Homo sapiens: one gene and its partner. The protein of the gene in region 2 interacts with the protein of the main gene of each other region in a biochemical or structural test. Each region holds a gene or a part of one and is shown on either strand. Other genes may lie near its edges.

Evidence for each region. The genes of interacting proteins can lie anywhere in the genome.
Region 1: the proteins of EPB41L1 (region 2) and AGAP2 form a complex in vitro, tested with the Homo sapiens proteins (one study listed by BioGRID).

Annotation. Positions count from the first base shown.
Region 1 is NC_000012.12:57,732,117-57,735,865, reverse strand, and holds part of AGAP2 (arf-GAP with GTPase, ANK repeat and PH domain-containing protein 2), read left to right. Parts: intron 1-438; coding exon 439-497; intron 498-1,186; coding exon 1,187-1,274; intron 1,275-1,461; coding exon 1,462-1,547; intron 1,548-1,692; coding exon 1,693-1,840; intron 1,841-2,886; coding exon 2,887-3,021; intron 3,022-3,353; coding exon 3,354-3,463; intron 3,464-3,749. UniProt on the Homo sapiens protein: GTPase-activating protein (GAP) for ARF1 and ARF5, which also shows strong GTPase activity. Isoform 1 participates in the prevention of neuronal apoptosis by enhancing PI3 kinase activity.
Region 2 is NC_000020.11:36,157,735-36,161,483, reverse strand, and holds part of EPB41L1 (band 4.1-like protein 1), read right to left. Parts: intron 1-3,749. UniProt on the Homo sapiens protein: May function to confer stability and plasticity to neuronal membrane via multiple interactions, including the spectrin-actin-based cytoskeleton, integral membrane channels and membrane-associated guanylate kinases.

The DNA of each region.
Region 1 (3,749 bases), on a different chromosome or scaffold from region 2:
AGGTTGGGGAAGACACACTCTCTTCTGTGTTTCAGCACCTCCTCCCAGGGTCTGCCCTGGGAACCAGTGGGTTAGGGAGGAGCTCCTCTTCTATTCTTTTTCCAGAGGGAAGAACCTGCCACTGTCAGAGCCCTGGTCTCCCTGTCTGGGGCCAGGACCCGCGTTTGGGGATGTGCTTTAAGGGAGATGCCAACTGAAGTATTTTTGTCTTGCTAGCTCCGTTGCTAAGCAACCACTGAGCGGCAGCAACAGCTGGGGGAGAGTGGCTGGGATGGGAGGCCTGGGGACCACCCTCAAACCTGTCTGTTGCACACACCTCTCCAGTGCAGGCAGGGTTGGGGGGGGGTTGGAAAGCTGCAGAGGGAGGAGGGGTGGCTCAGTGTTGGGGGTCCTTCTGAGCCAGGAGCCTCCCCTCTTACTGCCCTTCTCCCGTTACAGAGGCTGTGATCAATAGCCAGGAATGGACTTTGAGCCGCTCCATTCCTGAACTGCGCCTGGTAGGTAACCCAGTCCCCTTGCCTATAGGGAAGGCTGACCTCCCACCCACTGCACTCTCAGCTCTCTCCCTTCACCTCTCCTTCTCTCTCTCTCTCTCTTTGGGAATAGGGAATCGTTTTCCAGTTCTCCTGAGAGTCTGCCTTCATAGCACCAACATGGGGTTTGCTACAGCCTCCTCACAAGTTTTTCCTATCTAGTCTTTATGCAGCCATCCCCTTTTTCCTGTTTGTTCATGGTCCTCCTCCAGGCTTCTCATTTCTGGTATCTGCCCTTTGGCCTTCATGTTGTACTGCCTAGAATTGGGTAAAGTTTTCCAACTAGTGCCTAGAGCTGTGACATGCTACAAACACACACACACAGAGACACACACACACAACATATCTAGTATGTTTTCTAAACAACCCAACACACAAAAAAGCTGGTACTGAATTGCTGACATTCTTCAGCTCGTGCTCCACTTTGAGCTTGGGATCATTTCTTACCACACTCATGCCCTGATCCTCCCAACTGCTCTGATCCCCCCAGCTGCTCTGATCCTCCCAACTGCTCTCTCTGGAATGACTGTCATCCAGGCCCTGTAGGGTCCTGCTTGGATGACTTATCTCTCTGGGTTTTCTGGAGTGTCCAGACCCATGCATCCTGCCTTCTCTTATATCCCACAATTTCTGCTCCACAACCTTGCCCTCAGGGTGTGCTGGGCGATGCCAGGAGTGGGAAGTCATCGCTCATCCACCGATTCCTGACTGGCTCATACCAGGTGCTGGAGAAGACAGAGAGTGAGTTCTGAAGAGCCATAGTAAGCTAACCATTGGGGTCAGGGATCCAGGAGTGAGATCAATGATTAGGCAGGTGTGGAGACCAGGGGGGAAGGATGAGGCCATAATAGCAAAAGCACTGGGAGCATGGGGAGGTTTGGTGACCTGTCACCTCTGACCTGTTACCCCTTCCAACTCTTCTGGACAGGTGAGCAGTACAAGAAAGAAATGTTGGTGGATGGACAGACACATCTGGTGCTAATCCGAGAGGAAGCTGGGGCACCTGATGCCAAGGTGAGGGTGGAGGTGGTGGGGGACAGGCTGGCTGGGGTCAGCACTGGCCAAAGGAGAGGGCTCTGGTTTCCCAGGTCTTCATCTGGATTGGGTCCAGAGGAGTAGACCTGTCTGACTTTCCATTTGCTCCCTCACTCCCCGCAAGTTCTCAGGCTGGGCAGATGCTGTGATCTTCGTCTTCAGCCTGGAGGATGAGAACAGTTTCCAGGCTGTGAGCCGTCTCCATGGGCAGCTGAGTTCCCTTCGCGGGGAGGGACGAGGAGGCCTGGCCTTGGCACTGGTGGGGACACAAGGTAAGGAGGGGTTAGGAAAGCACTGCTTTCAAGGGAGGCCCTAAGGAGGCTACTGGGATATTGCCCAACATGGGTGAGAACTTGGTAAGGTGTGGAAATGGCCACTTGGATTATAGTACCCTTCTGGAGGGAGCCTGGTCTCCAAATAAGGGAGTCATGAAACCAAACAATAACTTCCCAAGGTCTGAGCAGAGAAAAGGGGATCTCCAGGGAGGAAAGGACAGCTATAGTAGCCATCTCCTTGCCTCTCCTGAAATGTCACCTACCTTGTGTTCTGACACTGCCATTTCCTAGTGCCACCATCCTAGGACACAGAAAATCTCAAGTCCTAGGGTGGATAGGAAACCTTTTCCATCTTCCTTTTTGCGACAGCTGGGTAAGGCTGACACCTTTTAAAGGAACTTATCCAAAAACAAAGTGAAAACACAAAGGAAATGATGATGAAAAGAAGAGAGCAGAAAACCTTTTAGTTCTCAGAGAAGTGACTCAGAGGCTCCCAGACTCTGCCAGGGCCAGGAAATGCTTTTCCAGCACTCCCCTGTGTCGAGCTGGTGGGACTTGGTCTGGATGCCTGTTCTGCTGGTGCCTATCTCCACCTGTTGCTTGCATCCTGGTTTCTTGCTGCAGAGTGGGCAGTCCAGCCATGACCCATGGGCACCCAACCTTTTCCTAGTTCACAAGCTGGTGTCCTCCCACCAGTTCAGGGTTCTATGGATTTGCAGGGCAGGGTGATTGTCGCTCGCGCCTGGGTCTCAGCTATGTAGACCTTGTCAGGAAGCACCACTCAGCAGCTCTGGAGTATTCCTTGAGGACACACACACACACACACACACACACACAGCTCACCCAGCTAGGTGTGTGAACTGGGCCCAGTACTCAGAAAGGGCTTATGTACTCCCATTCCACCTGGTCACAGAAAAGATGATCTCTCACACCCCATCCCCAGTGGACCCAGCCTGAGGGCCCAGTGCAAGGATAAGGGAATTGTGAAAAATCGAACAAGGTGGGGCTCCTTGTTCAATCCTGCCCCTTTCCTGTCCCCTCAGACAGGATCAGTGCTTCCTCCCCTCGGGTGGTGGGAGATGCTCGTGCCAGAGCTCTGTGCGCGGACATGAAACGCTGCAGCTACTATGAGACTTGTGCAACCTATGGGCTCAATGTGGATCGGGTCTTCCAGGAGGGTGAGTGTAGTGATCTCCAGCATATGTGGGAAGCCAGAGCAAGGGGCCTGGGATATTCTCAGTGGTCAGGCATCCAGGCCTCTCTCTGTGAGTGACAGGAAATTAGCCTTTGTGGGAGGGAGGAGAGATCAGGGAGGCCAGAGAAGGTTTGCTTAATAGTCGCAAGGTCTTTCTGGGCTGGAGGAGCTGGCAAGGCCACAGGTGGCATGGAGGCCACAGTGACAAGGAAGTTGGGTCCTGTGTTGTCTACTGGGGATTTCTCAAAGCTGGGCATGGAAGGGTGGTCTTGGGTATCTGGCCTGCTCACACCTCCTTCCGTCAACTCCCCTCAGTGGCCCAGAAGGTGGTGACCTTGCGCAAGCAGCAACAGCTTCTGGCTGCCTGCAAGTCCCTGCCCAGCTCCCCAAGCCACTCAGCTGCATCCACTCCGGTAGCTGGCCAGGTGAGTTGGGGTTTCAGAGTCTGCAGAGGGGCCGGTAAGATGCAGAGGGGCTGGGGATCCTAGGACAGGTACAGAGTACCCAAGGAGGTTCAGGGAGTGGGGAAACAGATGGAAATGGCAGTGAAACTATTGGCAGAAAGTGCATTGGACTGGAAATCAACCAGATTTGAGACATCATTTGCAGTGTCCTTAAGCAACTCACCTAACCTCCCAAGGCTATCAGGAAGATTGTATGACACAATACTTGTGAATCAACCTTTACAACATTTAAAGCATTGTCACAATG
Region 2 (3,749 bases):
CAAAAAAACCCAAAAAACAAACAAACAAAAAAATAAGAAGAATAAAATAAAAAGAAAAAATAGAAAAACAGATAATGCACATGAAGCTTGCTCTAGCACAGTATTTGACATATAGAAGACACTCAGTGGCAGCAATGGCTCTGATCACCACCAGACAGATGGACAAACTGAGGTACAGAGAAGGTAGAAAGCTTGTCCAAGGACAGTCTGGGTGTGGGCAGCTGCACAGCCCAAGCAGCAGCTTAGAGCATCCTAAGAGAATTTGAAAATTTCCTAGGAGAGCTCCATACTGGGTGGGTGAAAGAAAGGGTCTTTCCCTGGGACATCACCACCTTTTGAGGGTGACAGAGAGATGGCCTCCTCCAAGACCAGTTCCCCCAGGCTCCAGTGAGGAGAGGAGGGAACAGGAGAAGGGAGAAGCAGCAGACCTTTGAGGGCAACTCTCACGGTCTCATGGTTTCTGACTCCTTCTCTCACTTGATTTTCACTAATTGTCTAAATACTGTTAGAGTTCAGTTAGCGTTACTTAGAATACCGTAAAATTGGAAACAACTTCAAATGTCAATCAACAGGGGGGCTGGCCAAATTAGTAGGGTTTATCCATTAAAAATTTAATTATGAAAGTATAACATACCTATTGCAAAAATTTTTGAGATAGATTTTATATCTACTGACATAAAAAGATGTCAATGTGTAGTTACATGAAAAATGCAAGTTGTAAAACAATAATGCAATGTATGATCCCATTCTGGTTTGTATGTTTATGTTGGTATAGAAAATATCCTGGAAGGATACACAACATGCTGTTATTAGCTACGACTGGAGAGTAGGATTTGTTTGGGGATCTAAGGGGAGAATACACTTTTTTTCTTTCTTTCTTTCTTTTTTTTTTTTGTGACGGAGTCTCGCTCTGTCACCCAGGCTGGAGTGCAATGGCGCAATCTCGGCTCACTGCCCCACAACCTCTGCCTTCCGGGTGCAAGAGATTCTCTTGCCTCAGCCTCCTGAGTAGCTGGGATTACAGGCGCCAGCCACCATGCCCGGCTAACTTTTTGTATTTTTAGTAGAAATGGGGTTTCACCATGTTGGCCAGGCTGGTCTTGAACTCCTGACCTCAGGTGATCTACCCGCCTCAGCCTCCCAGAGTGCTGGGATTATAGGCATGAGCCACCGTGCCTGGCCTACACTTCTGAATTATTAGATTTTCCACAAATTTTTTTTGTAATTAAAACTAAAGAAAAGTAAATATAACAGTAAAGAAATATTTGTTTTTCTGTTTTATTCACTTCCCATATGCTTGCTGGAACTCCATTTTCTACCTGTTTTCTTCCAATCTGTATCTATGTTCATACCTAATTTTATACCATTGTAATATGAATACTGATAATCTTATGGGTCTTCTTTCCCATTTAACATTAATTGTATCAGACCATTAATGACATCACATCATGACATCATCATCATCTCCACTAATGTTCATGGATACTTCACTATGTACTAGTTACCATGCCAAGATGTTTACATGCCTTAACTTATTCAATCTTGATGACAACCCTAAAACCAGGTACTTGGACTATCCACATTACAGCTGGGCAAACTGGGGCTTTGAAAGATTAATTAACTTGCCAATTGCCTCACAGCTAGTAAAAACAGAAAGAAGACTTAAACCCTGTTCTATGCAAGTGCCAGGTCCTCACTGGGAACCTCTCTGTCCTATTCCCCTCGAAGATAGTGAGTGGTTAGTGAGAAGAATGTGGCAAGTAGGGAATAGCAAGAATATGGCAGGCACTATGTCTTACAACTTGAGTGACCTTGATCAAGTCACTTCCCCTCTTGATTAGTTCACTCATTCTTTCATCGGACAAGTATTTGCAAACCACTGAGCAACATGCTGCGACGAAACAATGAATAAAATGTGAACTCAACTCTGCCTTCAAGGAGACTGGAGTCTAGCGTCATTCTCTTCAAACACAGAAAGGATCTAGCCCCGGCCCCACCTCTGTCGCAGAGCAGTCATAAGCACAAAATGAATCAAGGATGCAAAAGAGCTTTGCAATTGCACAGCTCCATCCACTGCAAGCAGTTTTTCTGTGGGTGTTCACCACTGCGTATTATTTTATCCAGTGGATGTTCCAAAGCTTTCCCAATCATCTTCCTATTGTTGGACACTTAGTCCCAATTTACTGCTATTATAGAGGAAGCTCTGATGGGGATTTATTCAAAAGAAATAATTCAAAGGAAAAACAGGCCAGATGTGCAAAAAAGATGCTACCCAATCTTCCAGATGACTAAAGGGAGACCAGCCCTTCTCAAACTCACCAGGCCTGAAACAGAATTCCTGACCCTGTGGCCTTACCCACTCCAAGCTCCTCCTTCTCCAACCTGGCGAACCACCCACTACCAGAGGGACACCTTAATGAGTGCCAATCTTGATCCCTCCCCAGCCCTCCAAGTCCCCACAGTTAAGGTTTCTCCTGTAAGATCACGTCCACCCTCTCCTGTGGATCATACGGTTGCCAAAAGGACCTTCCCAAAACACAGTTCTGTCATGCTCCTCAGCAGACTAAAATCCTGCAAAGATTCCTAGAGCATCCCGGCTCACGTCAAGTCGAAACACCTTGGCCTGACATTTAAGAGAGACAGAAGCGGGAGAGAAGTAATGTTTACTGAGTTCCTGCAATGTGTTAGCATTACACTAGGTGCTTTATATAACAACCACAACATGGTCCCTGTGAGACAGGCATGTTTATCTGCATTTTACGAATGAGGAAACTGAGGTTTGGGCCAGCTGAGTGATGTGCCCAAGGCCACGTGGCTAATACAATGCATTGCTGTGACTATAGCCTACGTCTGGTGGATTCCAGAGCTCCATCAAAAACCCAAACACTAGGTGACTTTCTGAGTCACCTCCCAGCTCACACTCCGCCACACACACTATCTGTTCCACGCACATCAGACCGCCCACTCTTCTTCAGAGGCATTCCTATTTCCTTCCCCTCTGACCTGGGGAAGTGGGTGCCCTTCCCCCTTCAACCATCGAAATCCGACTTGGCCTTCAGTGCCCAGCTCAAAGGTCCCCGTCTTCTTGAAGCCTTCCCTGAGCACCAAAATAGGAATCCATGCTGAGCCTATGCAATAGCACACTCTTTACTTTTAGTGTGTCATGTCTGCATCTCTCCCAGCTAGACTGGGAGGCCTTTGAGGAGAGGGATGCATCTGACTGAGTGACTATTTCAACTTGAACAAAACAGAGTATGGCCTCTGAGAAACTACAGGCTGCCTGGCATGGCCTTCAGGAACATGGCTCTGACCCACACTGCCTAGGTTTGAATCCTGACTCCCCCACAGCCTAGCTATTTGACCTTGAACAACTATCTAAGCCACAGCTCCATCAATCTGTAAAACGGGAAGAATAACTCCTATACCTCATCTACACCTCACAGGGCTTTGTGAAGAACGTATGAGTTGTACATGGAAGCCCTTAAAACTGGGCCTGGCACATAATAAATGCTCAATAAATGTTAGCTGTTACTATTCTGATCCACAAGCCTCTAGCCCACAAAGGAAGCAGTGCCAGCCTGCTCCACCCCCACCCATCCACCAAGGCTCAGCTCCCTGCCCACAGGGCCTCCTTAGCCCAGTCCCCACTGTGGCCTCGGGATGTGTCCAGAGCCAGCCCATCTTCCCTAAAAGCCAATGGGAGCAGGGAGTCTGGTGTTTCCCCACTTCTGGGGGACCCTGGCCAGGAA